Homo sapiens: one gene and its partners. The protein of the gene in region 5 interacts with the protein of the main gene of each other region in a biochemical or structural test. Each region holds a gene or a part of one and is shown on either strand. Other genes may lie near its edges.

Region 1 (4,213 bases), on a different chromosome or scaffold from region 5:
AGGCCCCAGATGCCCCCAGCAACAGGAGAGCTCTCCCCACCCAGCCAGCATGCAGGGACTAGAAACCGTGAGCCCAACCTCCTAAACCTTCTGCAATCTGTGACCTAACCCAGGCTTAGGCCCAGCTTGGGGGAAGGGAGCAGATGAGGTGCTTTTAACCCCTGAACCACCCAGCCCTCAGGACCTGAGGGCTTATGAAATTCACACAATAACTCTTTGTTACCTAGGATTACCTAGGAGTTAACAAAAATAAACAACTGGCTTTGAATCTGGTCTCAGGGTGCATGCCCTGCTCTTCAGATACCATTTACAAGATGGGTAAGTGTCATCTCCCTCCCATCTAAAAACAGTCCCCCTTAGAGCCTTAACTCTGGCATCTTGCTCTTTGTTATTCTCTCTCCATGACCTTTTTCCTTTTCTTTTTTTTTCTTTCCACAGCAGGTTATTTTTCATTTACTTTCAAATAAAAATTAGATGTCACACTTCTTTTCTTCTTGAACCTGCTTTTTTGTGTTTAGGGTGGAATCACTGCCCACCCCCTAACCTTTTAGCCATGCATGATTCATACCATGTGTTCCTACACAGAGAAGCAAACTGTATTATTTTCTAAAACAGTATCTTTCAGAAAACATTTGTATAAATGGACAAATTTAAGTTTCATAAAATGGTCCCTACTATAAAAGCTCACTTGAACAAGTAAATGGTGGTGGCAGTGGTGGTGGTGGTGGTGGTGGTGATGATGGTGGTGGTAGTGGTGGTGGTGGTGGTGATGGTGGTGTTGGTGGTGATGGTGGTGGTGGTGGTGGTGATGGTGGTGGTGGTGGTGGTGATGGTGGTGGTGATGGCGGTGATGGTACTGGTGATGGTGGTGGTGGTAGTGATGGTGGTGGTAATGGTGGTGGTGGTGATGGTGGTGGTGGTGGTAGTGATGGTGGTGGTAATGGTGGTGGTGGTGATGGTGGTGGTGGTGGTAGTGATGGTGGTGGTAATGGTGGTGGTGGTGATGGTGGTGATGATGGTGATGGTACTGGTGGTGATGGTGATGGTGATGGTACTGGTGATGGTGGTGGTGGTAGTGATGGTGGTGGTAATGGTGGTGGTGGTGATGGTGGTGGTAATGGTGGTGGTGGTGATGGTGGTGATGATGGTGATGGTACTGGTGGTGATGGTGATGGTGATGGTACTGGTGATGGTGGTGGTGGTAGTGATGGTGGTGGTAATGGTGGTGGTGGTGATGGTGGTGGTGGTGGTAGTGATGGTGGTGGTAATGGTGGTGGTGGTGATGGTGGTGATGATGGTGATGGTACTGGTGGTGATGGTGATGGTGGTGGTGGTGGTGATGGTACTGGTGGTGATGGTACTGGTGGTGATGGTGGTGGTGGTAGTGATGGTGGTGGTAATGGTGGTGGTGGAGATGGTGGTGTTGATGGTGATGGTACTGGTGGTGATGGTACTGGTGGTGATGGTGATGGTGGTGGTGGTGGTGATGCTACTGGTGGTGATGGTACTGGTGGTGATGGTGGTGGTGGTAGTGATGGTGGTGGTAATGGTGGTGGTGGTGGTGGTGGTAGTGATGGTGGTGGTGGTGATGGTACTGGTGGTGATGGTGGTGGTGGTAGTGATGGTGGTGGTAATGGTGGTGGTGGTGATGGTGGTGGTGGTGGTAGTGGTGGTGATGGTGGTGATGGTACTGGTGGTGATGGTGGTGGTGGTAGTGATGGTGGTGGTTGTGGTGGTGGTGGTGATGGTGGCAGTGGTGGTTGTGGTGGTGGTGGTGATGGTGGTGGTGGTGGTGGTGATAGTAGAGCCTTCACATTTTAACTACAATGATGTGCATTTTTCTCTAAAACCAGGAGAAAAATTAGTCAAAATTATGTGTGGGCATGAATATACAACATATACTATGTTCAAATACACATGTAAATACATAAGGAATATGCATTGGAATAACTCTGGAATAACCCTAAACTGACTCCTTTTGATTCTGGCCTTGGCTAAAGATGTGTGCCATGGACTATACCCAAAGTCCTAAATGAGGCCACAGGAGTGAATGTCCAGTAATAAAATGGGCTCCAGAGGCACAGGCATCTTCAATCACTAGCCACGGAGCAAGACAAGACCCTGGGGAGAAGACCCACAGGGATGAGCTACTATCAGCTCCCAGCCTCCAGTGAGGAAAGAAAAAGGGGAGGGAAGAAGTCCCTCTGGGGCTGAGTGGAGTGGGGAGCGGCTGCCAAGTGAGTAATGGAATAATACATATGACAATCTATTTTGGAAGTAACTCCTTCAGTACTTAAAAAGTAAGGGCAATTTCCAGAAATTCTCATCTCTATACACATGGACATTTGTAGAAGAAATAAGGCTCAACTTACAAATACCCTGCGGGGCATATTCTGCACTCATCCCAGGCGTGGGGATTAGAGCTCCATGTGCAGAACGAGGGGAGGAGAGGCCCCTCCAGTGCAGAAGTTTATCTGTGAAAGAAACCCAAAATCAAGCACTACAGCTACAAACAACGTGCATCATAAACCACAGGATATCACATTTCAATTCCATTAAAATAGATTACAACATCATTACAACAGCCTTGCAGATAGTTAACAGGCCCAAGGCCTGAAACAAAAGAAGAGTGGTGAGTTATTTCCCAGAGTTTCTGTTTTGTTTTCAATTTCGGTCTTTTTGACAAAAGTGAAAGGGTTTGTTTTAGGAAAGGGGAGAGGTGGTCTTTGGTTCATTTGCTTATTTATTTGTTGTTGTTTGATTATTGTCTTGTGGAAAGAAGATGTGTAAGCAGCAAGGGGAAAACTGGTAATATTGTGGGTAGCCTGGAAACATGGGGGGATTTTATCTGCAAGGCTGGTTTACATGCATACATTAACTTTACTTTATAGACAAACCCAAGCAAAAAGCAAAATGCTGATAGGAAATGAGTAGATTTGTGAATCGTTTTTTATGGGACAGAGTCCCACTTTGCTTTCTCTGTCCCTCTGCCCCCCTCTTCCCATGCTATATTTATGATAGCGCCTTCAGTGATAGGGGAAACCTGGGCATTTCTGGACTGAGCTGGGCCATACTCTAGAATCCTGTCAACTGGAAACCTTACACAGATGTGGCTTCTCACAATACAAAGCAATGGAAGATAAAGATTAGACTTCTGGGGTCCAAATAACTTTGACCATTAAATGACAAGGAAAGAACCAGCATTCCAATAATGCCAGCACCCAGAAACCCTGACCCATCTTCACCATTTTACTGCACTTTGTTGTACTCTGGTGAAGACAAGTGACTTCTCACACTAATAAAATGAATCTAATAGTCAATGAAACATTTGTAGCACTGAGATTTTTTTGAGAAGAGGAAAATTTGGTTTGTGCAATCTGGGGATTTTACGGTTTATGTGGTAAGTGCCTAGCTTTTCCAAGTCCTCCTCTAGCTAACTAACCATGTAGCTGTCCATCTTGAGACAGACTGGAGGATAGATGGTGCAGGAGACGCTCTGTGTGTTCTAGAGGTTTGGAGTTCATGATGATTGGGGAGGGCGGGAGACAAGAAAAACAGACTTTGATGGTGAACAAACAGTATGTTTTCCATTAGCTTAATATTAAGAGCACTTAGAAGTGTTGTTGTTGTACTCTAGGATAGCAGGTCTCAAGTGTAAAATACATCCTGTTCTCCTTATATAGAGCACACTGCCAAGCACAGCCAAGGCAGTTGGGACAAGATTTCCTTTCGCAAGGAGCCTGGTGGGTAACGATGGTGTGCTGCTGAGAAGGCTCTTACACAGACAGCATAGGTCTGCTGTTACCAGGCCTGCAGAGGGAAGCCCTGGTGGAAGCACCACCTAGCCTGAGAACATCTACAGAGACATTTCATCCTCTCTGACCCAAAACAAAATAAACACCACAAAGTGAACCAACACAAGCAGGAAGACCGGACTTAACAAACAAGTATGTCTACATTTGACTGTTTACGTCAAGTGAATTGAGAGTGTGGCGTAAAATTACTACAGATTTTGTCATGGTATTTTTCAATGAGAAATCTGAGAATCCATCTTTGCACTTGTTTTTGCCTCAGCCGTTCACTAAGTTTGCTGCCAAAACAGACATCCTTTTCTTAGGAAACACAGGCAACCCAGGTATCTCTGTGATCCCAGCATAAACGCAACAGGTACTTGGATCCTTGTATGGGGAGTATCAAATTTCAAATTCTCTGC
Region 2 (4,213 bases), on a different chromosome or scaffold from region 5:
GAGTTTCACCATGTTCTCCAGGCTGGTCTCGAACTCCTGGGCTCAAGTGATCCTCCCAGCTCAGCCTCCCAACCTGCTGGGATTACAAGCATGAGCCACCACGTCCAGCCTTGCTCTTTCAGACTTTTAAGTAAAACAGAGGTAGGACAATCAGGCAGTATCTTAATCAAAAAATAAGTAAAATAATATGTGATGTTTAGAAAACTATAGTTATTACCTTGTTGCCTCTACCCTAGGAAGCTTACTGTGGTAATTTTAAAATTAGCATGCCAATGTTTAAAATGTAAATGATTATTTAAAGGCAAAAGAAACAATAAATATTCCCTTACCTTGTAAGATGGCAAGAAACACAAAATTCCTTGGCTCACAGTCTGGCACACAGATAACAAAAGTGCTCCCACTTCATCTTGGAACTCAAATGTTTCAGTATTCTGGAAGGTAGCACAGAGATTCCGACCCTTGGGGCCTGACCCAATGGTACCAACCCAAACCTAGAATATGAATATGTCATTATTAGAGTTATGCCTGAAAAAGGCATGGAAATTAGTATTTATTTGGAAGTATGTACATAAAAGATCAAGCAACAAGTTTAACAATTTATTTTTAAATTGTCAGGGGGTTTTCTATTACCTTCAATTAACTGTATACAGATTTAATTTATAAATGTTTTGCTTTAGGCAGATCACTAAATTCTCTTAGAGTGAAAATTCTTTGAAAGCAAAACAGGTTGTACCTGTCTCTGTTTACTTAATAGCTTTGCAAAATTTAAGCATGTAACAAATTTTTGTTAGGTGAATAAATGAACAAGTGAAATGATGAATATATACCAATAGCAGAATCAGATAATTCCAAAATACTGGGGATGAAGGCCAGTATAATTTGCCATAGGCAAGTCTCAAAAATGACAGGAACTACTCTTTCAAAAATTCATTGGTGCTCAAAGATCCTTAGTCATAGAAAAAAATCACACCCACCACATCTTACAGTTATTTGCAATTCTATCTCCCTTATATGTAGAGAGAGGGAGAGAGACGAAAATTTTGCAAAATGTTAACAAGTGATGAATCTAGGTGAAGGATATAAAGATATTCACAATATTAATATTATCTTTCCAACTTTTCTGAAATTTCTAATTTTTTGAAATACAGTTGAAAGAATCAATGAATGAATGATCAAAATGTAGCATTGAGTAGAAAAAAACAAACTTTTTCCTTTGCTCTCACACCACAGCAATCAACACAGAAAACTTCTGTGACCAAATGTGTGGGAGGTTTTTTCCACATACCAAGCAATCAATTCTGCAACAGACATCAACTGGGTGTCCTCTAATTCAATTCAATTCTGATACTATCTACTGGGAGATGATAACTTCAGATCCCAGAGGTTGAGGGCTCAGTCCCCAAGACTGCCCCTGATTTCTGTGGCCAGTCACAGTTGTTTTTACTTGCACTTCTGACTGATCAGCTAGAAATCGGGCATCCCACAACCCTCTGCTTGGGTTCAATTAATTTGGTAGAGCTGCTCACAGAACCCAGGGACACATTTACCTACACTTACTGATTTATTAGAAAAAATATTACAAAGGATACAGATAAAGAGATGTATGTGGGAAGGGGCTCAGAGCTTCAATTCCCAGGCACATCACCCTCCAAGTGTTCAGGAACCTCCAAGTGTTCAGCTATCTGGAAGCTCTCTGAACCCTGTCCTTCTAGGTTTTTATGGAGGCTTCATTATGTAGGCATGATTGATTAAACCACTGGCCATTAAGATAAACTTAACCTTTAGCATCATCTCCCCCAAGCCCTCCCCAGAGGTTGAGGAATGGGGGTGAAAATCCCAACTCTCCTATCATGTCTTGGTCTTCCCGGAGGCCAGCCCTGATCCTGATGCTACCTAGGAGCCCCCTACCATTAGTCATCTCATTAGCATACAAAATGTCACTTTGGAGATTCTAAGGATTTTAGGAGTTGTATGCCAGGAAATGGAGTGGAAGACCAAATATATATATTATAAATCACAGGCATATACACACAAGAAACATTATTCACCTTTAAAGAGGAAACTCTGGCACATGCTACAACATAGATGATGAACTTTGAAGACATTATCTGCAACATGGACAAACCTTGAGGACATTACTAAGTAAAATAAGCCAGTCACAAAAACGACAAATATTTTATGATTCCACTTATATGAAGTATTTATAGTAATCAGATTCATAGAAACAGAAAGCAGAATGGTAGTTACCAGGAGCTGAGGAGAGGGGGAGAATAGAGAGCTGTTGTTTAATGGGAACAGAGTTTCAGTTTTTCAAGAGGAGAAAGTCTTGAGATTGGTTGCACAACAACATATACATACTTAATAAGACTGAGCTGTATACTCAAAAATGGTTAAGATGGTAAATTTTATATATATTCTACCACAATTAAAAGTTTTTTAAATTTTAAGTTGAAGGAAAATATTACAGTGTAACAGAATCCAGCTGCACAACTACATTATTATAATTCAGCGACATTATAGGTTAAATGGACTTTTGTGCAGTAGGCTGAGAACATAGAGCCTGTAATAACATTCTTATGAGAAAACGTATGCTGAATTTACCAACTTCCCATATTTATCTGTGTCTCTAAAGAAAGCAACTTGAAAACGTGGAACATGTATTCTTCCTTCACTGCTGTTCATAGTCACATTTCTCAGCAGGAACACTCTGGCATTTGGAAAGCACAATTCTTAGTTACATAGGAGTAGCATTCTAGGTTCCCAACTACCAAATGCCGTAGTTGCTCCCAAGTAATTGTGAGGACCAAAAATGTTCCCACCTATAAACCTGTGTATATAGCTTAATAAAGAGCTAGCATTGTGTTAGGCACACAGGTGATGTTAACTTAACCACTTTAGCATTAACCACAGCTTAACATCACCTGTGTGCCTAACCACTTTAAAATATTTCATAAAAAGAAACCAGAAGGCATAATGAAAAATAACAATCTATACATTTCCACAAAAATTAAAATAACATTTAGTAGCCATCGTTATAAAACATTAAAATCTTAAATCATAGGACTCATAAGAGTACTTTTAACTCATTTCAGATATTCAAACATGCTGAACACTTGCTAAATACCAGCTATTAATCTAGGCACAGAGGAAGAACGTGGATGTAAAAGGAAGAATCAGGATACACTGTAGTCTAATGGAAAAGAGAAGCATAAATAATTATACAAGCTGGGCATGGTAGTACATGCCTGTAGTCCCAGCTACTCAGGAGGCTGAGGCAGGTGGACTGCCTGAGCCTGGGAGTTTGAAGCCAGCCTGGGCAACATAGCAAGCGACCTTGTCTCTAAAAAGATAAAGTCTGGCCAAAATGGCAAAACCCCGTCTCTACTAAAAATACAAAAATGTGCCAGGCATGGTGGCATACACCCATAATCCCAGCTACTCAGAAGGTTGAGGCAGGAGAACCGCTGGAACCCAGGAGGCGAAGGCTGCAGTGAGCCAAGATCGCACCACTGCACTCCAGTCTGGGTGACAGAGCAAAACCTTGTCTCAAAAAATAAAAGTAAAAATAAAAATACAGAGATAAAATAAATAAAATATAAATAGGCTGGGCACAGTGGCTCACGCCTGTAATCCCAACACTTTGGGAGGCTGAGGCAAGTGCATCATTTGAGGGCAGGAGTTCAAGACCAGAATGGACAACATGCTGAAACCCCATCTCTACCAAAAAAATAAAAAATTAGCCAGGCGTGCGGCGCACACCTGTAATCTCAGCAACTTGAGAGGCTGAAGCAGGAGAATTGCTTAAACACGAGTGAGCCAAGATCACACCACTGCACTCCAGCCTGGGCAACAGAGCCAGACTCTGTCTCAAAAATCAATCAATCAATAAATAAAACATAATTATACAATGAGAATTAAAGAAATCAAAATTTTGTTTTCATTACAAAACTAAAACTTACTTAGAAGAAGAAGCTGAAATACAGCCTTTTGCATCCCAAGTGACTGGATTATTTCCTTCTGTTGACACATCATTAAGTAGCTGACAGATTTTCTTTTATTGTAAAACTGGAATGTTGAATTTCCTACCAAGATTTACTTGCTGGCACTTCAGGTATCTTCTAACTTGTTTACATAGTTATATTGAAGTAGAAACACTGAAGGCCTTCCAAAAAAAAAAACAACAACTAACCTGTGAATTTTTAATGATATGATT
Region 3 (4,213 bases), on a different chromosome or scaffold from region 5:
TGGCTGGTGGGAGTGCACCCCTGGTGGCCACTGCTATTCTCATTACTAATACTAATGTTCTCAGCATGACTTATTTGAGAAGCGAGTTTTTGTGAAGCCCGTGGAATGAATCAGCTGAGCATTCCCTGCTGCCGCATGCTGGGGAGGGCAGGTCACCAGGGATATGGCTTGGCCTGCGCCGCCCACTGGGCCTTGCAGTGGGCCTGTCCGTTTAGGATGCCAGAGCTCTTGCGTCACTGCCACCTGCACCTGGCTTAGGAACCCAGAGGTCACAGCATCATGTGTTTCATATTTTTTTAAATGTCATGTCATGAATTCAGAGAGATTGTTTCAGGGACATTGGAAAGTATTTCTCCCCACTTTTTCATGTGTTTTTGGTCGTCACAGTCTGCTGTAGGCTTTGAATACCAGGGGAAGACTGAGAAGCATGCCTCCCAGAAAGGTAAGACGCGAAAGGTGCAGAAAGAGCCCGCTCCGGGGGCCCCGATGGGGAGAGTCACAGCCACCTGAAGCCGTTTCCCCGCGCTCCGGGGGCCCTGATGGGGAGAGTCACAGCCACCTGAAGCCGTTTCCTGAGCGGTGGCTGTTGCCACAAGGAGGACTCTGCCCTCCTCTTCATGTTTCTGGATCATCTGGATACCACATGATGGATGTATTCCCCGTTACACATCCCCCTCGGAGCCCTGGCATCTGCTGTCATTGTGGGGCTTCTCCCCCTTGTAGCGGAAGCCGCCTTCCCTTCATCTGGGCAGCGCTCCTCCTGGAAAAGAGAGCTCACAGATTGATCGGCAGAAAGCTAACTTCCCCCCAAGGCTAGAAACCAGAGTTGTTAAATTCTTGTTTTCCTTATACACATACGGTCTTAACTGCTGGTGATTAATCTTGATTACATCATGCAGTCTCTTTTTTGAAAGACCAAAGCATATCGCCACCTTAAAGTTCTCAGTTTATTTTTTGCAAGCTTATTTAGTTCTTCCTCCTTTGTGTCATTGCATCATCCGCGGAACAAGCTCTCAGTCCTTACGCAGTCTCGGTGCAGTCTAGGTGGAGGTAGCTGTGGTGTGGGCAGGCGGAGGATCAGGGTCTTGTCTCCCATGTTCAGCTGCATGGCTTTCTTCATATGAGGCTTTCTCTTTCCATTTTTTTCATTTTGTTTTGTTTGTTTGTTTGTTTTGAGACAGAGTCTCGCTCTGTTGCCCAGGCTGGAGTGCAGTGGCACGATCTCGGCTCACTGCAACCTGCGCCTCCTGGGTTCAAACGATTCTCCTGCCTCAGCCTCCCAAGTAGCTGGGATTACAGGTGTGTGCCACTACCCCTGGCTAGTTTTTCTATTTTTTAGTAAAGATGGGGTTTTGCCACGTTGGCCAGGCTGGTCTCAAACTCCTGGCCTCAAGTGATCCGCCCACCTCAGCCTCCAAAGTGCTGGTTCTTTGTATGAAGCTTTCCAGCTTTTACCTGAGCAGTTGATTTTCAAAGTGGGCATGCAGCGTCATTTCTGACTACACAAAGGAACTGCCCTGTAACAGCTGACAGGGCCCAGAACCCCCCCATGCACCTGTTGTGAAACAGGGTCCAGCGTCACCTGTATGGAGCAGTGGGTGGCTTGTTGTACATTTTAAAATGTGCGCTTGATGTGTTTGTGAGTTGTAACCCCTACACACTTTTGCTTAGTTTAACAAAAGGAACAGTGTAGTTCGTCCTCAGGCCCCCGTGCTAATTGCTGCCCTGTCTCTCCAGACTACTCCAGTGGTTTTGGCGGCAAGTATGGCGTGCAGGCCGACCGAGTAGACAAGAGCGCGGTGGGCTTCGACTACCAGGGCAAGACGGAGAAGCACGAGTCACAGAGAGGTGGGGCGGACCCCACGGTCTGTAATCACGCGTTTGCTCCAGAAACACCCACGAGGGCATTTTCTCTCTGCACACGTGATTGTTGTAGATTTTTTAACTGAAAATGTTTGGTGTTCTTTTCGTACCAGTGTATGTGGGCTTTTCCTAATTCGAATGGCTGCACAGTTCCCCATCGTATGAGGATTCCATAGTCCATGTAACCATTCCTTTTTTGAATGTGGAATTTAGGTTATTTATTTATTTATTTATTTATTTTTGGTAGAGATGAGGTCTTGCCGTGTTGCCCGGACTGGTCTTGATCTCCGTGGTCTCAAGCAATCCTCCCCCACCTTGGTTTCCTTAAGTGCTGGGATTACAGGTGTGACCTGTAAATTTTTTTTTTTTTTCTTTTAGACGGAGTCTCGCTCCGTTGCCCAGGCTGGAGTGTAGTGGCGTGATCTCTGCTCACTGCAACCTCCACCTCCCTGGTTCAAGCAATTCTCGTGCTTCAGCCTCCCGGCTAGCCGGGATTACAAGCACACGCCACCACGCCCAGCTAATTTTTGTATTTTTAGTAGAGACGGAGTTCTGCCATGTTGCCCAGGCTGGTCTTGAATTCCTGACCTCAGGTGATCGCCCTGCCTTGGCCTCCCAAAGTGCTGGGATTACAGGTGTGAGCCACTGCGCCCAGCTGAAACTTGACTGCAGGGAACATTCTTGTACCTGTGTTTTGTTCACAAGTGATTATTCAAAAGAATCAACTCCTAGACATGGAATTGCTGGGTCGAAGGCTATTGAATGTAAAATTTCCATAGATACTGCCAAGTTGTCCTTGGAGGCTGTGCTGAGTTCTTCCTTCCCCACTGCATAGCCTGTACACCATCACTCAGAGCGTTTCCCAGGGCTGCAGAGGCTGTGGCCTGCCTGTTTCCCTGTGCCTCTTGTTTGGCCTGCACATTTAAATTTTTAAAAATATTTGCCAACATTTGAAAAGTGAGAGCTTGACTATTTAAAAACTCAAAAAAAAAAAAAATTACCCCAAAGCAAGAAACACCACTGGAAGATCCGACCATGCTGGCTTGGCATTTCCCTGAGGAAAGTGCCGGTGGCCTGGAGGGCAGCTTGGCTTGTAGTTTGTCGCGGCCTGGCCTGGCCTTGCCTTCCTGCCGGTCAGGCCTTGCCTGCCGCACAGAGCTGCTTGCCTCTGCTCTCTGCCTCTTTCCTGGGAACAGTCCATTCCTCCTCTTCCCGACACCACACAGTTGTGAGCAGCGCATGCTCCGCGAAGCTGCATGAGTGTGTGACTCCAGGGAGCCAGGGAGCACAGGCCGAGCACCTGGGCAGACGCAAGGCTCCTTGGATGCTTCAGGCCTTCTCTCCCAGGCCTTGATCCTCTGCCTTGTGCTGTTAGTGGGTCCATGAGAGAGTCATGTTTTGGTGTCACAGTGACATGCTAAATGGCTTCATTCTGAGTAGAACTGAAGTTTCTGGAGGATGCTGTGTGTGTCCTATTTCCTGGCATCCCCCTGCGTGCTTCAGTTTGTGAAGAGTGGCCTTTGAAAGCCTTGCCCTTCTGCTGCCTCCTGAGCTTAGAGCCTTATCATAAACTCTCATCTCCTGCTAGCTTCTGGATGCAATGGATGATGTTACAGGAATTCATCTGCTGTACTTTATTTCTTTTTTTTTTTTTTTTGAGACGGAGTCTCTCTCTCTCGCCAGGCTGGAGTGCAGTGGTGCGATCTCAGCTCAGTGCAACCTCCTCCTTCCGGGTTCAAACAATTCTCCTGCCTCAGTCTCCTGAGTAGCCGGGATTACAGGCATGCACCACCAAGCCCAGCTAATTTTTGTATTTTTAGTAGAGGCGGGGTTTCACCATGTTGCCCAGGATGGTCTTGATCTCTTGACCTCATGATCCGCCCACCTTGGCCTCCCAAAGTGCTGGGATTACAGGTGTGAGCCACTGTGTCCAGCCTCTGCTGTACTTTAAAAAAAAAAACTTTTTTTCTTAATTCTTTTTTTTTTTTTGAGATGGAGTTTCACTCTTGTTGCTCAGGCTGGAGTGCAGTGGCGCAATCTCGGCTCACTGCAACCTTCACCTCCTGGGTTCCAGTGATTCTTCTGCCTCAGCCTCCCGAGTAGCTGGGATTACAGGTGTGGGCCACCACGCCCAGCTAATTTTGTATTTTTAGTAGAGATGGGGTTTCATAATGTTGGTCAGGCTGGACTTAAACCCCTGACCTCAGGTGATCCACCCACCTCGACCTCCCAAAGTGCTGTGATTACAGGCGTGAGCCCCCTCCCCCAGCCTGTTTTTTGAATTTTTAAAATATTAGCTAATGATTTAACTTAGAGATGGGGTCTTGCTATGTTGCTCAGGCTGGACTCC
Region 4 (4,213 bases), on a different chromosome or scaffold from region 5:
CTCTCCCTTCACTTTCAGCCATGACTAGAAACTTACTAAGCCTCACTATAAGCAGATGCCGGCACCATGCTTCCTATACACTTTGGAGAACCGTAAGCCAATTAAGCTTCTTTTCTTTATAAATTACCCAGTCTCACGTATTCTTTTATAGTAATGCAAACAGACTAATACAGCTCCCTAGCCTATCTGCATAGAAAATGAACTTCCCCTTCCCCCACCCCTCTCCCAACCCGGCAAAATGTACCATTACCTGGTAATGCTTACTTAAGTTTTTTACTACACAATGCCTGGCATTCAATAAAAAATTATGAGACATAAACAAAACAATCAACAGACTTGACCTAACTGACATTTGTAAAACACTCCACCTAACAACAAAACACACATTCTTTTCAACTGCACATGAAGAACACTTACAATGATAGAATATATTCTAGGCCATAAAATAAATCCGAATAAATTTAAAATTATCTCATTACAATGGAATTAAATTAAAAATAACAATGATCTCTGGAAAATCCTCAAATATTTGAAAACTATATAACACACTTATAAATAAACTATAGACCCAGTAAGACATCAGGAAAGAAATTATAAAGTACTCTGAATGGAATGAAAATGGAAACATATCAAAAACTGGAAACGGCCAGGAGTGGAGGCTCACATCTGTATCCCAGCACTCCAGGAGGCCAAGGAAAGAGGATTGCTTGAACTGAGTTCAAGACCAACATGGGCAACACAGTGACATCCTTGTCTTCAGAAAAAATTGTAATAAACTCTGGCCAGGTGTGGTGGCTTACACCTGTAATCCTAGCACTTTGGGAGGCTGAGGCAAGTGGATTGCCTGAGCTCAGGAGTTGACGACCAGCCTGGGCAACATAGTGAAACCCTATCTCTACAAAAAATACAAAAATTAGCCAGGCATGATGGCACGCGCCTGTAATCCCAGCACTTAATAGACTCTGGTGCGAGGATCTCTTGAGCCTGAGACGTCGACACTGTGGTGACCCCGTGATTGGGCCACTGCACTAAAGCCTAGGCAACGGAGTGAGACCCAGTCTCAAAAAAATAAAAATAAAAATAAAAAATTAGCCAGGCATGGTGGCACATGCCTGCAGTCCCAGCTACTCAGGAGGCTGAGGTGGGAGGATCACTTGAGCCTGAGAGGTCAAGGCTGCAATGGGCCATGATCACGATACTGTACTGCCTGAGCAGTAGTGAGACCTTGTCTCAAAAAACAAATAAATAAATTATAAACAATTAAAGGGAAGTTTATAGCATGCTTACATTAGAAAAGAAAAAAGGTCACAAATCAATGACCTCAGCTTCTATCTTAAGAAACCAGAAAAAGAAAACAAATTAAACCCAAAAGTAAGCTGAGGAAAGGAAATAAAGACCAGGGCGGAAATAAGAAAACCACAGGCAGTCAATTAAACTAAAAGTTAACTTTTTAAGAACCTCAATAAAATTAATAAACTTCTAGCCAGACTAATCAGGGAAAAGGGGAGCAGAGACAAATTACTAGTATTCGGAATGATACTAAATCTCTACAGGTTATACAGATATTAGACTCATTACACTTTCTACAGATATTAAAAGAACAATAATAGAGTATTATAAGCAACTTTTTGCAATAAATGCAACAAGTTAAATGAAATGGGTAAGTTCCTTCGAAAACTTATCAGGCATGTGAAGAGACGGAACAATACAACCATATGACCAATAACCAACAGAAAAACAAACAAGATAAACAGACCAATAGATGATGCCGATATTGGAAAAGACAAGCATTTAAATAACTATAATTAGTATGTTCAAGAGAACTGGAGTCTATTACAAGTCTATAAAACAACATCAAAGGAATACTCTAGAACTCAAAACCACAATGTAAAATTAAGAACACAAAAGATTATTTTGACAAAAAGAGAAGATAGTTTTGGCATACTGGAAGGCAGGTCGATAGAAAATATCCAAACAGAGAAAAAAATTTTTTTCAACATGTGGAACATGATAATTAAGTTTAATATATGTGTAATTAGGATCCAAAAAGAAAAAAGGGGCAGAATATATGAAAAGGTGGTAACAGAACTTTCCAAAACTAAAAGGCATCCAGCTAGATTCAAAAAACTCTATAAACATAAAGCAACAAAGAAAACCACATCTGAACACATCAAAGTGCTTTAAAAGTAACACAGAGAGTCTTAAAATTAGCCAAGGAAAAATAAAAGACACATTATCCTCAGCAAGAATATAGCTAATACATTGCCTTCAATAAGACTGGTAGCTGACTTCAACAAAAAGAAAGGAAGACAGAAAGCAACCAAACATTCTTAATGTGTTGAAAGAAAATAACTACCAACTTAGAACTTAATAGCCAGTGAAAACACACTTCAGGCCAGCCACAGTGGCTCATGCCTGTAATCCTAGCACTTTGGGAGGCCAAGGTGGGCAGATCACTTGAGGCCATGAGTTTGGAGACCTGCGTGGCCAACATGGCAAAATCCTATCTCTACTAAAAATACAAAAAATTTAGCTGGGTATGGTAGCACATGCCTGTAATCCCAGCTACTCAGGAGGCTGTGGCATGAGAATCATTTGAACCCAGGAGGCAGAAGCTGCAGTGAGCTCAGATCACGCCACTGCACTCCAGCCTAAGCAACAGAACGAGACTGTCTCAAAAAAACAACAACAACAACAACAAAAAAAACACCAAAAACCACTTCAAAAAAGGTGAAACTGCCGTGCATGGTGGCTCACACCTATACCCAGCACTTTGGGAGGCCAAGGTGGGGGGATCTCTTAAGCCCAGGAGTTCAAGAACAGCCGGGGCAACATGACAAGACCCCGCCTATACAAAAAATTTAAAAATTAGCTGGGCATGGTGGCATGTGCCTGTGGTTCCAGCTACTGAGGAGGCTGAGGTGAAGGATTGCCTGAGCCCAAAAGGTTGAGGCTACAGTGAGCCATGTTCACACCACTACACTCCAGCCTGGGTGCCAGAGTGAGACCTTGTCTCAAAAAAAAAAAAAAAAAAAAAAAAAAAAGGTGAAATTGAGATATTTTCAGAGAAACAAAAATAGAAAAAATCACTGATACTAGGTAGGCCAGTATCAAAATGCATGATATAGGGAAGTGACAGTATTATTATCCTAAAAATTGAAAACAACTTCAATGTCCAACAGAAGATTGATAAGTAAATTATTACACAGAGATGAGAATGTTACATACCTACTAAAAATAATCACATAGCAGAAAAATACTGACATGAAAATATGTTGATGATTCACTGTTAACTGAACAGCTTGCACTGCAGTGGACTACATTAGGAGCCCATAACATCATATAAGTATACATATACTTATGTAATGGCTCAACAAAATGCAGGAAGCAGATAGATAATCAAGAAGATTAACAACAGCACTTTCGGTGGTATGATCTCCAATGATATTAATTTTTTTTTTTTTTTTTTGAGACTGAGTCTTGATCTGTCGCACAGGCTGGAGTGCAATGGCGTGATCTCTGCTCACTGCAACCTCTGCCTCCTGGGTTCAAGCAATTCTCCTGCCTTAGCCTCCCAAGTAGCTGGGATTACAGGCACCCGCCACCATGCCCGGCTAATTTTTGTACTTTTAGTAGAGACAGGGTTTCACCATGTTGGCCAGGCTGGTCTCAAACTCCTGACCTCAAGTGATCCACCCACCTCAGCCTCCGAAAGTGCTGGGATTACAGGTGTGAGCCACTGTGCCCTGCCTAAAATGTAATCTATGCTTTCTTACTGTTTCCCACATTAGGGATGTGCTATTTTTTAATTGGGGGCAAGAGAGGAGGGGAGAGGAGGGGAGGGGAGGGGAGGGGGGAATGGAGAAAGGCAACTCTTTACATTAAACCATATTTTAATACAAATGATAAGTTCTTAGCTAGGCATATGGTCTAACCTTTATTGGTATATCCCCCATGTGTGCTTTTTAATTTTTTTTTGATACCAAAACCTGCCAACATGAATCAACCTGTACTTTCATTTTCCACTATTTGGACCTTGAGAGCTTGCTCGAAGGTTCTAGCAGGGGAGCGCAGCTGCTCGTATACCCTTGACCCAAGACCAGTCCTCCTCTATTTGGGATGGTTGTCCTCTTCAACCAAGCACGCAGCTTCAGCTTCAGGAGGGACGCACGTGGAGTGGAGAGGGAGGAAGGGGACACCTGCCGAGCCAGCC
Region 5 (4,213 bases):
GAATATGTAGCCATTAAAAAGAATTGAGGGAGATCTAGATGAACTGCCCTGGAAAATGGTTCATGACATACGTGAAAAAAGCAAATTAGTCACCAGTATGTGTAACTTTTGTTTTTGTTACTAAGCAAAAATTGAAATTATATGCATATGTATATAGAGATGTCCATTTAATCAATCAAGTCAGGAAGGATACAAACAGGCTGTAAGCAGATGTGGGGAACTTTCACTTCTGACATTATACAAAAAAGTTTAATAGAGATTAAAGATGACTTTTTACCTATTTAATCTTTCAAATTAAAAAAAAATTCCCACTGCAACTTCTAGGTTCTACTACCCAGGCTTCTAAGTAAAACTTAAGTGAATTCCGTTAACAGCTATCACATACATGTACACATGCTGCTAAAAACCTCGTATAAAGAATCCAAAAACGTTGCCTTAGATTCAAATATTTATCACAAATTTCATGAATAACTCTTTGCAATTTAAGAAATAGAGAGTGCATATAGTAGCAAGGGAAAAGCTTAATAAAGTCAATGTTTACAGAAAATCAAAAGCCACTGTTTTGGAAAAGTGAGTTCAGTTAAATCAACCACTGTTTTCTTCCCCAGAATGCTTTGTTCTAGTACATTTACATTTGAGAGATTAAGCATTGTATGTCTCATTAAAGCTCCCTCTGGAAATAGCTTTTAGAGTATTTTAGGCACTATGAGAATATGCTAGGCAACAGATAAAATAGGACCTATAATAGTAAGCAAGTGATAATAGCATGCCAAATGCAGAATTTAAAAAATAAAATAACTCCAAAGCAAGGTCAGGGAAAAAGAGCAAGTACCAAGACTCCACCGTCCCTGAATTAACTGTGTGCCTTATCCACGTCCACCCCCACCCTTTCTAAAGGGTAGAGTAAGAAACACAAAGATGTATGGGACACTAGATTTAGCTCTTATTAATTCAACTACCTTTAAGACAAATCATAAGGGACATTTTTGTTTTATTTTATAAGCCTGCTTTTTTTTTTTTTTTTGAGACAGAGTTTCGCTCTTTTTGCCCAGGCTGGAGTGCAATGGCGCGATCTCAGCTCACCACAACCTCCACCTCCCGGGTTCAAGTGATTCTCCTGCCTCAGCTTCCTGAATAGCTGGGATTACAGGCATGTGCCACCACCCCAGCTAATTTTGTATTTTTAGTAGAGACGGGGTTTCTCCATGTTGGTCAGGCTGGTCTTGAACTCCTGACCTCAGGTGATCCGCCCACCTTGGTCTCACAAAGTGCTGGGATTACAGGCGTGAGCCACTGCACCCGGCCAAGCGTACGTTTTACATATGTGAGAATCTGAATGATTTGAGTCTTTGACTCATACTTTCTGTCAAGTATGAAATGGGCCATGTCTGAATTATTAGATTTAAATATAGTGTTCAAACTAAAAGTAGTAGTACAGGTGTGGTGGCTCACACCTCTAATCCCAGCACTTTGGAAGGCCGAGGCGGGCAGGTTACTTGAGACCAGGAGTACGAGACCAGCCTGGGCAACATGGAGAAACCCTGACTCTACAAAAAACACAAAAATCACAAAAATTAGCTGGGCCTCACGGTTCATGCCTGTAGTCCCAGAAACTCAGAAGGCTGAGGTGGGAGGATCACCTGAGCCCAGGGAGGTAGAGGTTCCAGTGAGCTATGATCGTATCACTGCTCTCCAGCCTGGGTGACAGAGTGAGAGCCTTTAAAAAAAAAAAAAAAAAAAACAAACAAAAAAAACTAAAAAATCTGAAATAATGAAAAAAATTACTCTGGAAGGACTGTTCTAATATACCACTCCTCCTAAGATAGGACCACTTGTTGAAAACCAATGACTGGAGATACAACTTACAGATAGAATATGGATTAACTCTTCCATGGTGAAAGTGTGACATGCTTAGTCCTATTCCAAACAAGACAGGCCACCCAGTTTGAATATCCTAAAGCCTTTTTAAGCAACCAATCATGAGGGCTGGGCCATTCTGTTGCTGCCATAGGGATCCTTATAGACCAAGAGTGGAAGCAGAACTGGAATCAAAGGCTCAAAACACTATTAAAACAAACCCTGCTTTCACATAGCTGTGTCTGGAAACATGCAAATAATCCAGGAATTGGCCATAGGCAACCAACGTGGTCAAAACTAAAGCTTAGAACTATCCGCAGAAATTGGCCGGATGTGGTGGCTCATGCCTGTAATCCCAGCACTTTGGGTGGCCGAGGTCGGCGGATCACAAGGTCAGAAGATCGAGACCATCCTGGCTAAGATGGTGAAACCCCGTCTCTACTAAAAAATACAAAAAAAAATTAGCTGGGCATGGTGGCGGGTGCCTGTAGTCCCACTACTCGGGAGGCTAAGGCAGGAGAATGGCGTGAACCCAGGAGGTGGAGCTTGTAGTGAGCCTAGATCACACCACTGCACTCCAGCCTGGGTGACAAAGAAAGACTCCATCTCAAAAAAAAAAAGAACTATCTGCAGAAATAATGGCTTTTCTGCAGAGATTATGCCTTTCTTTCTTCTCCAAATTTCTAGCAATATGAATAAAAGACCCTAGAGTAAAAGGCATAGGTGTAAATGCAGTCCCTCAAGACTAAGAAAGCTGGGCATGGTGGCACAGGCCTGTAGTTCCTGCTACTGGGGAGACAGAGGAGGGAGAATCACTTGAGTCTGGGAGTTAGGGAGCTGTAGTACTCTATGATCGTGCCAATGGATGGGCACTACACTCCAGCCCGCACAACATAACAAAATTCACACCCACCTTTTTTTTTGAGAGTCTCGCTCTGTCACCCAGGATGGAGTGCAATGGCACAATCTCGGCTCACTGCAACCTCCACCTCTCCTGGGTTTAGGCAATTCTCCCACCTCAGCCTCCCAAGGAGCTGGGACTACAGGTGCGCGCCACCACATTCAGCTAATTTGTTTTTAGTAGAGACAGGGTTTCACCATGTTGGCCAGGCTGGTCTCAAACTCCAGACCTCAGGTGATCCACCTGCCTTGGCCTCCCAAAGTGCTTAGGATTACAGGTGTGAGCCACTGTGCCCAGCCAAAATTCCCTCTTTAAAAATCAGAATTTTTAGAGAATTCATCAAAATTTACTGATGTTAATCTTTGCTGATATCCACCCCCTCCTATATATAGTTCAGATGGAGGCAGTTAAGTAGAGTTGCTGAGAAAATAGAACCTAAACTTTCCTTCCTGTCAAAAAAAGTGAAATGCATCAATCCTGCTAAGGAGAGTCCTCATAATCCCTCCTGTCTCTTTCATTCCACAAAACCACACTTGAATAAACTGCTCAACATCTTAATCAATACTAATAAATTGGTCATATGACAAATTCAACTGTATTTCAATATATAAATAGTATGGCTATGTTCTAATAAAAGTTTGTATTTATGAACACTGACATGAAAATTTTATATAATGTTCAAGTGTCATGAAACAGTTCTTTCAATTTTTTCCCCAGTCATTTAAAATTAATTATTAGCAGGGGGTGGAGGTGGGATTGGGAAGACGCTGGGAAGAATAAGTTCAGGAGATCTATTGCTGACTATAATTAAGAACATATTGTAGCCGGGCGCGGTGGCTCACGCCTGTAATCCCAGCACTTTGGGAGGCTGAGGCAGGCGGATCACCTGAGGTCAGGAGTTTGAGACCAGCCTGGCCAACATGGTGAAACCCTGTCTTTACTAAAAATACAATAACTAGCCGGGCGTGGAGACAGGCGCCTGTAATCCCAGCTACTTGGGAGGCTGAGGCAGGAGAATCGCTTGTACCTGGGAGGCGGAGGTTGCAGTGAGCCAAGATAGCGCCACTGCACTCCAGCCTGGGGACAAGAGCGAGACTTCGTCTCAAAACAAAAACAAAAACAAAAACAAATATTGTATACCTGAAAATTATTAAGAGTACATTTTAAATGTTCTCACCACCAAAAAAAAGTATGTGAAGTAATGAATATTAGCTTGAGTTAGCCATTCCATAATGTACACACATCAAAACATCATGTTGTACACCACATAAACTTTATTTGTTGATTTAAGTAATAAATTAATGCTTAATGCTTAGCTCACAGCCTATACAAAAACATGGAGTGGGCCACATTTGGACTGAGGCCATAGTACGCCAACCCCTGTATTAACCTAACACAAGAGAATGTCAATTAGTTAAACTGCCAGTCGCCACTTAATAAATTTTAGTATGTACC
Region 6 (4,213 bases), on a different chromosome or scaffold from region 5:
GATTGTGCCATCGCACTCCAGCCTGGGCAACAAGAGCAAAACTCTGTCTCAAAAAAAAAAAAAGAATGACAGTTCACAGTTTTTATGAGCTTTTATTTTATGAGAATCAGATTCCCAAAAGAGACCCAGGACACCTCAAAGATTAGAGACCACTGCAGGAGAAATAAGCTCCAAGTGCCTTTTATTCTCCTTCACTTCATGCAACTAACAAGGGGCATTTTCCAGACACCCACAAGTATGCAATATAAAATGAAAATAAAGGCCAGGCATAGTGGCTGACACCTGTAATCCTAACACTTTGGGAGGCCAAGGCAGGAGGACTGCTTGGGGCCAGGAGTTCAAGACCAACCTGGCCAAAATAGTGAGACCCCATCTCTATAAAACAAAAAAAATAAGGCCCAGGCGCTGTGGCTCACGCCTGTAATCCCAGCACTTTGGGAGGCCGAGGTGGGCGGATCATGAGGTCAGGAGATCAAGACCATCCTGGCTAACATGGTGCAACCCCGTCTCTACTAAAAATACAAACAAATTAGACAGGCGTGGTGGCAGGCACCTGTAGTCCCAGCTGCTCAGGAGGCTGAGGCAGGAGAATGGCATGAACCCAGGAGGCAGAGCTTGCAGTGAGCTGAGATCATGCCACTGCACTCCAGCCTGGGTGATAGAGCGAGACTCCATCTAAAAAAAAAAAAATACACAGGGGTTTGCTCAGCTACAGAATCTTATCAACTCTAGTCCGTGGGTCCTGCTAAAACATACAAACCTTTTGTTTTTGGCTCTAGGGATTTCTTTTGACTAGAATCTTGTGTTTCAGTCCACTTCCTCTTCCTTCCAGGCCTTTCTAGAGTAGGTGAGTTCTGCTGGTGATCACAGTCACTAGCCTCCAATTTCTCTTGATGGTGTCTATAAAACAACAAAACAATAGAATATTTCTCTTTCTCACATGCTCCATTAGAATATATCATTAACATTATTTATAGCTGGGCACAGTGGCTCACACCTGTAATCCCAGCACTTTGGGAGGCCGAGGTGGGCGGATCACGAGGTCAGAAGATCGAGACCATCCTGGCTAACACGGTGAAACCCCGTCTCTACTAAAAATACAAAAAATTAGCCGGGTGTGGTGGCGGGCACCTGTAATCCCAGCTACTCGGGAGGCTGAGGCAGGAGAATCACTTGAACCTGGGAGGCAGAGGTTGCAGTGAGCCAAGACCGCACCACTGCACTCCAACCTGGGCGACAGAGTGAGACTCCATCTCAAAAAAAGAAAAAAAAAAGAATATCATTAACATTATTTATTTATTTATTATTTTGAGATGGTGTCTTGCTCTGACGCCCAGGCTGAGTGCAGTGTGTGATCTCAGCTCACTGTAACCTCTGGCTCCTGGGTTCAAACAATTCTCTTGCCTCAGCCTCCCGAGCAGCTGGGATTACAGGGGCGCACCACCACGCTCAGCCAATTTTTTTTTGTATTTTTAGTAGTGACGGGGTTTCATCATGTTGGCCAGGCTGGTCTTGAACTTCTGACCTCAAGCGATCTGCCCGCCTCAGCCTCCCAAAGTGCTGGGATTATAGGTGCCTGGCCAACATTATTTATCATATGCCACACATTACACTGAATCCTTTACATGGATTATCTGATTAAGTCTTCTCAACATAAGATGACTGTTGTGGAAGACTAAAAAAAATTAAAAATCTTCTCGACTGGGCGTGGTGGCTCACACCTGTAATCCCAGCACTTTGGGAGGCCAAGGCGGGTGGATCACCTGAGGTCAGGAGTTCGAGACACAGCCTGACCAACATGGAGAAACCCTGTCTCTGCTAAAAATAGAAAATTAGCCGGGTGTGGTGGCACATGCCTATAATCCCAGCTACTCGGGAGGCTGAGGCAGGAGAATCGCTTGAACCCAGGAGGTGGAGGTTGCAGTGAGCCATGATTGCGCTATTGCACTCCAGCCTGGGCAACAAGAGCAAAACTCCGCCTCAAAAGAAAAAAAAAATCTTCTCAACATCCTATATCATAAATATTATTATCTCCGTAAGGGAAGGAGAAAGGAGGCTTACAGTTGCTACTCCAGCTCCTAGCAGAGTCTATGAGGAGGCATTCAATAACAATTTTTTTTTTTTTTTTTGAGATGGAGTCTCACTCTGTCGCCCAGGCTGGAGTGCAGTGGCACGATCTCAGCTCACTGCAACCTCCGTCTCCTAGGTTCACGCCATTCTCCTGCTTCAGCCTCCCGAGTAGCTGGGACTACAGGCGCCCACCACCACGCCCGGCTAATTTTTTCTGTATTTTTAGTAGAGACAGGGTTTCACCATGTTAGCCAGGATGGTCTCGATCTCCTGACCTTGTGATCTGCCCGCCTAGGCCTCCCAAAGTGCTGGGATTACAGGCGTGAGCCACTGCGCCCAGCCTCAATAACAATTTGATTGAGTGAATGTTTTGGGGTTTTTTTGGTTTGTTTTTCAGAGACACAGGCTCACTCTATTGCCCAGGATGGAGCACAGTGGCACAATCATAGCTCGCTGCAACCAAAACTCCTGGGCTCAAGTGATCCTACCGCCTCAGCCTCCCAGATAGCTGCGACTACAGGCACGTGCCACCATGTTCAGCTAACTTTAGTTTTTTGGAGAGATGAGGTCTCACTATGTTGCCCACACTGGTCTTGAACTCCTGGCCTCAAGCAATCCTCCTGCCTCAGACTCCCAAAGTGCTGGGACTATAGATGTGAGCCACCATGATCAGCCTGAACATTTTGGTTATTACAAAGCGACTATATTACTGCCACCTTGCAGCTAGTTTCACTGAAAATACTTCTGGTTTTAATGTGCTGCTCATCTCTCATATCAGAATTGTTTATTACCCCATTGACAGAGGACACTGACTAATTTGCCTAAGGTCATTTAACTTAAAAGTATTAATAGCAGAGCCAGGACTTGAACCCCAGCAGTCTGGTCCAGAGCCCACACTCTTGACCATGGAAGAGTGTGGCTTAATCTTGTGACAAAGAACCAGAACGCCAAGGAGAAGGTCCTAGAGCGGCAAGGGCCTGAGGCCTTAAAGGAAGGGGCCCTAAGCAGGATTTGTGTATAGCTCTATTCTGGGCTGGCAGCAGGGTGCCCACTGTTTTCAAACTGTGCAATGTTACCCAAATAACATCAACTACACTTGTGGGATCCAACTGTGGGCCTTTATTCCCCTACATCCCAACCCTTCTGAGCAGCTGAGTTGACTATTTAATGGGCAATAAGGTTACTATAAAGCCAGAGGGTCGGGTAGGGCTGTGGCCCAGGAACTTGCTCCCTCATGGGAGAATTTTTTGCCATCAAGCAGTGGAGACTCTTCTCCCTGCCAAGTCTGAAAAGGAAGTCCTCTTGAGAGATCACTGTGTGAGATACTTCCTACTGACTCAGTGCCCAATCCTGCCCAACACACTTCCCAGAGGTCCTTGCAGCAGGCTGTGGACTTGACTGCGATTTCTGCTAATGAGATTCTCTCCTGAGAGATTTGGAAGGCAGAAGGAGGACAGAGGCCATCATCCTGGGACTGTGGAGCCTGACAAGTAATCTTTTTTTTTGAGACGGAGTCTCACTCTGTCACCCAGGCTGGAGTGCAGTGGCGCAATCTCGGCTCACTGCAACCTCCACCTCCCGGGTTCAAGGGATTCTCCCACCTCAGCCTCCCAAGTAGCTGGGACTATAGGCATGTGCCACCACGCCTGGCTAATTTTTGTATTTTTAGTAGAGACGGGGTTTGCCATGTTGGCCAGGGTGGTCTCGATCTCCTGACCTCAGGTGATCCACCCACCTCGGCCTCCCAAAGTGCTGGGATTACAGGTGTGAGCCACCATGCCCGGCCTGATCCTATTATTGCGCTATTTATAGCCAGTAATCCTTTCTAGTGTGGGTGTGGTGGCTAGACGCTGGAGTCCACTGTCCGTCACCAACTTCAGGAGACTGAGACAGTTCAATAGCAGCAGAAGCGGAATTGGTTTGTTGAACTCTGACGGCAACATCGGAGGAGTGACCCTGACTTCCACTTCTCCAGCCCTTTTACTTTTTTTTGTTGTTGTTTTTTGAGACAGTCTCATTCTGCTGCCCAGGCTGGAGTGCAGTGGCACAATTTCAGTTCACCGTAACCTCTGCCTCCCAGGCTCAGGCAATTCTCCTGCCTCAGCCTCCCTAGTAGCTGGGATTACAGGTATGGGCCCAGCTA
Region 7 (4,213 bases), on a different chromosome or scaffold from region 5:
TATACTCAGGCACAGTATGCATACATATGCAAAAATATTTCAATGGCCTTAAGTAGTGTAAACTAAAATTTGTTTTAAAAGGAATATACATTTTCTAATGAAAGAACTATTCAAGCCGGGGTTTGGTGGCTCAGGCCTGTAATCCCAGCACTTTAGGAGGCTGAAGCAGGAAGATTGCTTGAGTTTAGGGGTTCAATACCAGCCTCCACAAATAATAAAAAGATTAGCCAGGCGTGCTGACACATGCCTGTAAGTCCCAGCTGCTCGGGAGGCCGAAGTGGGAGGACCACTTGAGCCCAAGAGGTCAAGGCTGCAGTGAGCTGAGATCACACTGCTGCACTCCAGCTTGGGTGACAGAATGAGACCTTGTCTCAAAATAAAATAAAAAAGAAAATGTTGAAAAAGAACAAGCTGGAAGATCAACACTTCCCTATTCCGAAACTTACTACAAAGCAAAGTTATCAAGACAGTGTGGCTTTTACATAAAGACAGACATACAGATCAGTGAAATAGAATTCAGAGTCCAGAAATAAGCCAACGTATCCTACAGTCATATGATTTTTGACAAGCGTATCAAGGCCATTCAATGGGGAAAGGTTTGTCATTTCAAAAAACGGCACTAGGACAACTGGAGAGCCACATGCAAAAAAAAATAAAGCTGGACTTTTACCTTACACTATAAAAATTAGCTGAAAATAAAAGACCTAAATTTCAGAGGCAAAACTATTAAGACATTTGGAAGAAAACAGGAGTAAATCTTCATGACCCTGGATTTGGCAAAAGATCCTTAAATCTAACACCAAATCTATAAGTAACAAAAGAATAAATAGATAAAATGAACCTCATCAAATTTAAAAAACTTTTGTGCTTCAAATGATACTACTAAGAAAGTGAAAGGACAGGCCAGGTGCAGTGGCTCACAGCTGTAATCCCAGCACTCTGGGAGGCCAAGGCGTGCGGATCACCTGAGGTCAGGAGTTCGAGACCTTGCCTGGTCAACATGGTGAAAACCCACCTCTACTAAAAATATAAAATTAGCCAGGTGTGGTGGCACACGCCTGTAATCCCAGCTACTCGGGAGGCTGAGGCAAGAGAATCACTTGAACCCAGGAGGCAGAGGTTTCAGGGAGCTGAGATCACGCCACTGCACTAGCCTGGGCACAAAAAAGAGCGCAACTCCGTCTCCCCCAAAAAAAGTAAAAGGACAACACGCAAAATAGATGAAAATATTTGTAGACCAGGTATCAGACAGAGAATTGTATCTAGAATATATACAGAACTCTTACAACTCAATAATAATCAGATAACTCAATTTAATAATGGGCAAATGATCTGAATACTTCGCCAAAGATACACAGGTGGCCAGGAGACACATGAAAAGATGGTTCAACATCATTAGCCATCAAAGAAATGCAAATCAAAACCACAATGAGATACCATTTCACACCCACTAGTATGACTATCATCAAAAAGTCAGAAAATAACAAGTATTGATGAGGAAGGAGAAAAGTCAGAACCTTTAATTCACTGCTGGTGGGCATGTAAAATTGTGCAGCCACTTTGGAAAACAGTCTGGCAGTTTCTCAGATGGTTAAACATAATCATATGACCCAACAATCTTATTCCGAGGTATTTACTCTAAAGAAATTTAAGTATATGACTACTCAAAAACTCATACATGAATATTTATGGCAGCATTGTTCATAATAGGTAAAAGATGAAAACAATCTAAATGTTTATCAAGTGATGAATGAGAAACAAAACGTGGTATATCCAAACAATGGAATATTATCCAGCCATAAAAGGGAATGAAGTACTAACACATGCTACAACATGGATGAACCTGGAGAACATGCTAAGTGAAAAAAGCCAGCCATAAAAAGGCTACATATTATATGATTGCATTTACATGAAATATCCAGAATAGGTAAATCCATAGATGCAGAGAACAGATTGGTGGTTGCTGGGGGATGTGGACAAGGGAGAAGAGTGAGTGACTTTTGGGTTTTCTTTTAAAAATGTTTTGGGGCCAGGCATGGTGGCTGGCCCGGCATGGTGGCTGGCCGGGCACAGTGGCTCACGCCTGTAATCCCAGCACTTTGGGAGACTGAGGCGGGTGGATCAGGAGTTCGAAACCAGCCTGGCCAACACGGTGAAACCCCATCTCTACAAAAACACAAAAATTGGCCAGGCATGATGGCGCATGCCTGTAATCCCAGCTACTCGGGAGGCTGAGGCAGGAGAATCGCTTGAATCCAGAAGGCGGAGGTTGCAGTGAGCCAAGATCAAACCATTGCACTCTAGCCTGGGTGACAGAGCGAGACTCCATCTCAAAAAAAAAAAAAAAAAAATGTTTTAGAACTAAATAGAGGTGGTCTATTTTGTGACTGGCTTCTTTCACTTAGCATAATGTTTTCAAGATTCATTCATGTTGTAGCATGTAAAACATTATGCTAAGTGAAAGTCACAACAGACTATTTATTATACAATTCCATTTAGAGAAAATGCCTAGAATAGCAAATCTATAGAGACAAAGTAGACTAGTGGTTGCTCAGGGCTGGGGAGGATGGGCGAATGGGGTAATGACAGTTCATGGGTAGCAGGTTTCTTTGAGATGATAAAAATGTTACAAAATTGGCAATGGTTGTACATTATCTGTGACTCTACTGAAAACACTAAATTATACACAATAAGTGAACTAATTATACTGTATGTCGATTATTTCTTAATAAAGCTGCTTTTTAAAAGTTCAGATTCGATGGAGCCATCAAAGCCCAAAATTTTTAAGTTCTTAAATCTTAAAGGACAGATTACTATCTGAGTTGGTGACCGTGCTAGGGGCTTCAAATACCTTGTCAATCAATTTTACAACAATCTTATCAAGCATATGAGGAAAGTGAGGCACGGATAAGTAATCTGCCCAAAGGAACACTGTACAGCTAAGTCAGAGCTAGAACCTGAACCCAGGTCAGTCAACTCCCAAGTCCTATGTTGTTTCCACTATTTCTATTTGTAGATTTGGTCCTTTACTGAACCCAGAAAAGATGCCAACATCACATTAACTTATTAACTAATCAGAATGCCAGGCTGAACACTCCAGCTGAAATATGAAATTATCAACAGAACTAATAAAAAATAAAATACATACCAATAGGTGCTGGGTTATTACATACAGAAATAAGTAAACAAACAGAGACCCTACCATTACCTCAGTAATTTCCTTTCTTTTACTATCTTCTACAGAGCTTCCCCTTTTCTCTCAGCATGAAATTTTACCTTTCATTTCTCTTTCCTGGATTTCCCGTTCCTTCTTAGCTTGAATGGCAAGCAACCTTCTGCTCTTCACAGCACTAATCATGTCTTCAGCTTCTGTATCTACTTGGGGCTCAAACTTCACAATTTCTTTTTTCCTATCAGTTTTGCCTAACCCATTCTCAACTTTTCCATTTTCTTTATTTTTGGCTTCCATTTCTTTCCGTTTCTGTTTCTCTGCTCTCTTCTTATCATTTTCTTCCTTCAACACAGCAAGCCGTTCCTTCCACAACTCTGCAGACATCTGCTGTCTGGTCTCCATGTGGTCTTGCACTGAGTATGTCATGAGGATCCGGTGGCACAGTGCTGTCAAGATCTGTAGCTTCTCCTCTGACGTCAGCTCAAAAAATTCAGAGGTCTCCAGCTTTTCTAGGAACTCATCTTGTACCTCATTATCCTCAAATGCAGCTGAATCTTTATTGTCATCTGTGTCTGAGCCCTCGCTTTCCTCCTGAACATCAGATCTGCGCAAGCAGAGCCGCACCAGCTCTGAAACAGAATGCAGAGTCAAGGGGATTTCCGACAGCTTCATTCCCAATTCACCATAGTCTTCTGCTATCTCATCTTGTAGGAGGGTCTGTAAGAGGATGACCAACACCCTGTTAAGGTATAAAAAGCCACCCTTATCTGCACTCAAGGCTTCCATAAGGGACACAGCAGTAATAGGATACTGAGCATCTGGTAAAAGTAGCCCAGAATAACAGCTCAAGAATTCCACCACCATGGCCACATCCCCAAACAGCGTGTTGGGCAGCCCTTCAGGGGTATCCACCAATCTGAATGCTGGAAGGTTTTTGCCAGTTAACTCTTGGTCCTCATACCGCTTCTGTTTTTCTAATCTCTCAAGCATTTCTTTCTCTCTTCGTTCTTTGGCTTTTTCCTTCAACTTCTTTTTCAGCTC

What was found.
Region 1: the proteins of SIRT1 (region 5) and BCL11A form a complex in vitro, tested with the Homo sapiens proteins (one study listed by BioGRID).
Region 2: of the proteins of SIRT1 (region 5) and BRIP1, one has a biochemical effect on the other in vitro, tested with the Homo sapiens proteins (one study listed by BioGRID).
Region 3: the proteins of SIRT1 (region 5) and CTTN form a complex in vitro, tested with the Homo sapiens proteins (one study listed by BioGRID).
Region 4: the proteins of SIRT1 (region 5) and CLOCK form a complex in vitro, tested with the Homo sapiens proteins (one study listed by BioGRID).
Region 6: the proteins of SIRT1 (region 5) and NMNAT1 form a complex in vitro, tested with the Homo sapiens proteins (one study listed by BioGRID).
Region 7: the proteins of SIRT1 (region 5) and BAZ1B form a complex in vitro, tested with the Homo sapiens proteins (one study listed by BioGRID).

What each region holds. Positions count from the first base shown.
Region 1 is NC_000002.12:60,466,360-60,470,572, forward strand, and holds part of BCL11A (BCL11 transcription factor A), read right to left. Parts: intron 2,475-4,213; coding exon 2,373-2,474; intron 1-2,372. UniProt on the Homo sapiens protein: Transcription factor. Associated with the BAF SWI/SNF chromatin remodeling complex. Binds to the 5'-TGACCA-3' sequence motif in regulatory regions of target genes, including a distal promoter of the HBG1 hemoglobin subunit gamma-1 gene.
Region 2 is NC_000017.11:61,776,072-61,780,284, forward strand, and holds part of BRIP1 (Fanconi anemia group J protein), read right to left. Parts: coding exon 4,190-4,213; intron 2,708-4,189; coding exon of another isoform or gene 2,669-2,707; exon of another isoform or gene 2,175-2,668; intron 2,109-2,174; coding exon of another isoform or gene 2,049-2,108; intron 492-2,048; coding exon 330-491; intron 1-329. UniProt on the Homo sapiens protein: DNA-dependent ATPase and 5'-3' DNA helicase required for the maintenance of chromosomal stability. Acts late in the Fanconi anemia pathway, after FANCD2 ubiquitination.
Region 3 is NC_000011.10:70,415,276-70,419,488, forward strand, and holds part of CTTN (src substrate cortactin), read left to right. Parts: intron 1-387; coding exon 388-442; intron 443-1,737; coding exon 1,738-1,848; intron 1,849-4,213.
Region 4 is NC_000004.12:55,536,557-55,540,769, forward strand, and holds part of CLOCK (circadian locomoter output cycles protein kaput), read right to left. Parts: intron 1-4,213. UniProt on the Homo sapiens protein: Transcriptional activator which forms a core component of the circadian clock.
Region 5 is NC_000010.11:67,901,656-67,905,868, reverse strand, and holds part of SIRT1 (NAD-dependent protein deacetylase sirtuin-1), read right to left. Parts: intron 1-4,213. UniProt on the Homo sapiens protein: NAD-dependent protein deacetylase that links transcriptional regulation directly to intracellular energetics and participates in the coordination of several separated cellular functions such as cell cycle, response to DNA damage, metabolism, apoptosis and autophagy.
Region 6 is NC_000001.11:9,977,718-9,981,930, reverse strand, and holds part of NMNAT1 (nicotinamide/nicotinic acid mononucleotide adenylyltransferase 1), read right to left. Parts: intron 901-4,213; coding exon 761-900; intron 676-760; coding exon of another isoform or gene 632-675; exon of another isoform or gene 165-631; intron 1-164.
Region 7 is NC_000007.14:73,473,592-73,477,804, forward strand, and holds part of BAZ1B (tyrosine-protein kinase BAZ1B), read right to left. Parts: coding exon 3,277-4,213; intron 1-3,276. UniProt on the Homo sapiens protein: Atypical tyrosine-protein kinase that plays a central role in chromatin remodeling and acts as a transcription regulator. Involved in DNA damage response by phosphorylating 'Tyr-142' of histone H2AX (H2AXY142ph).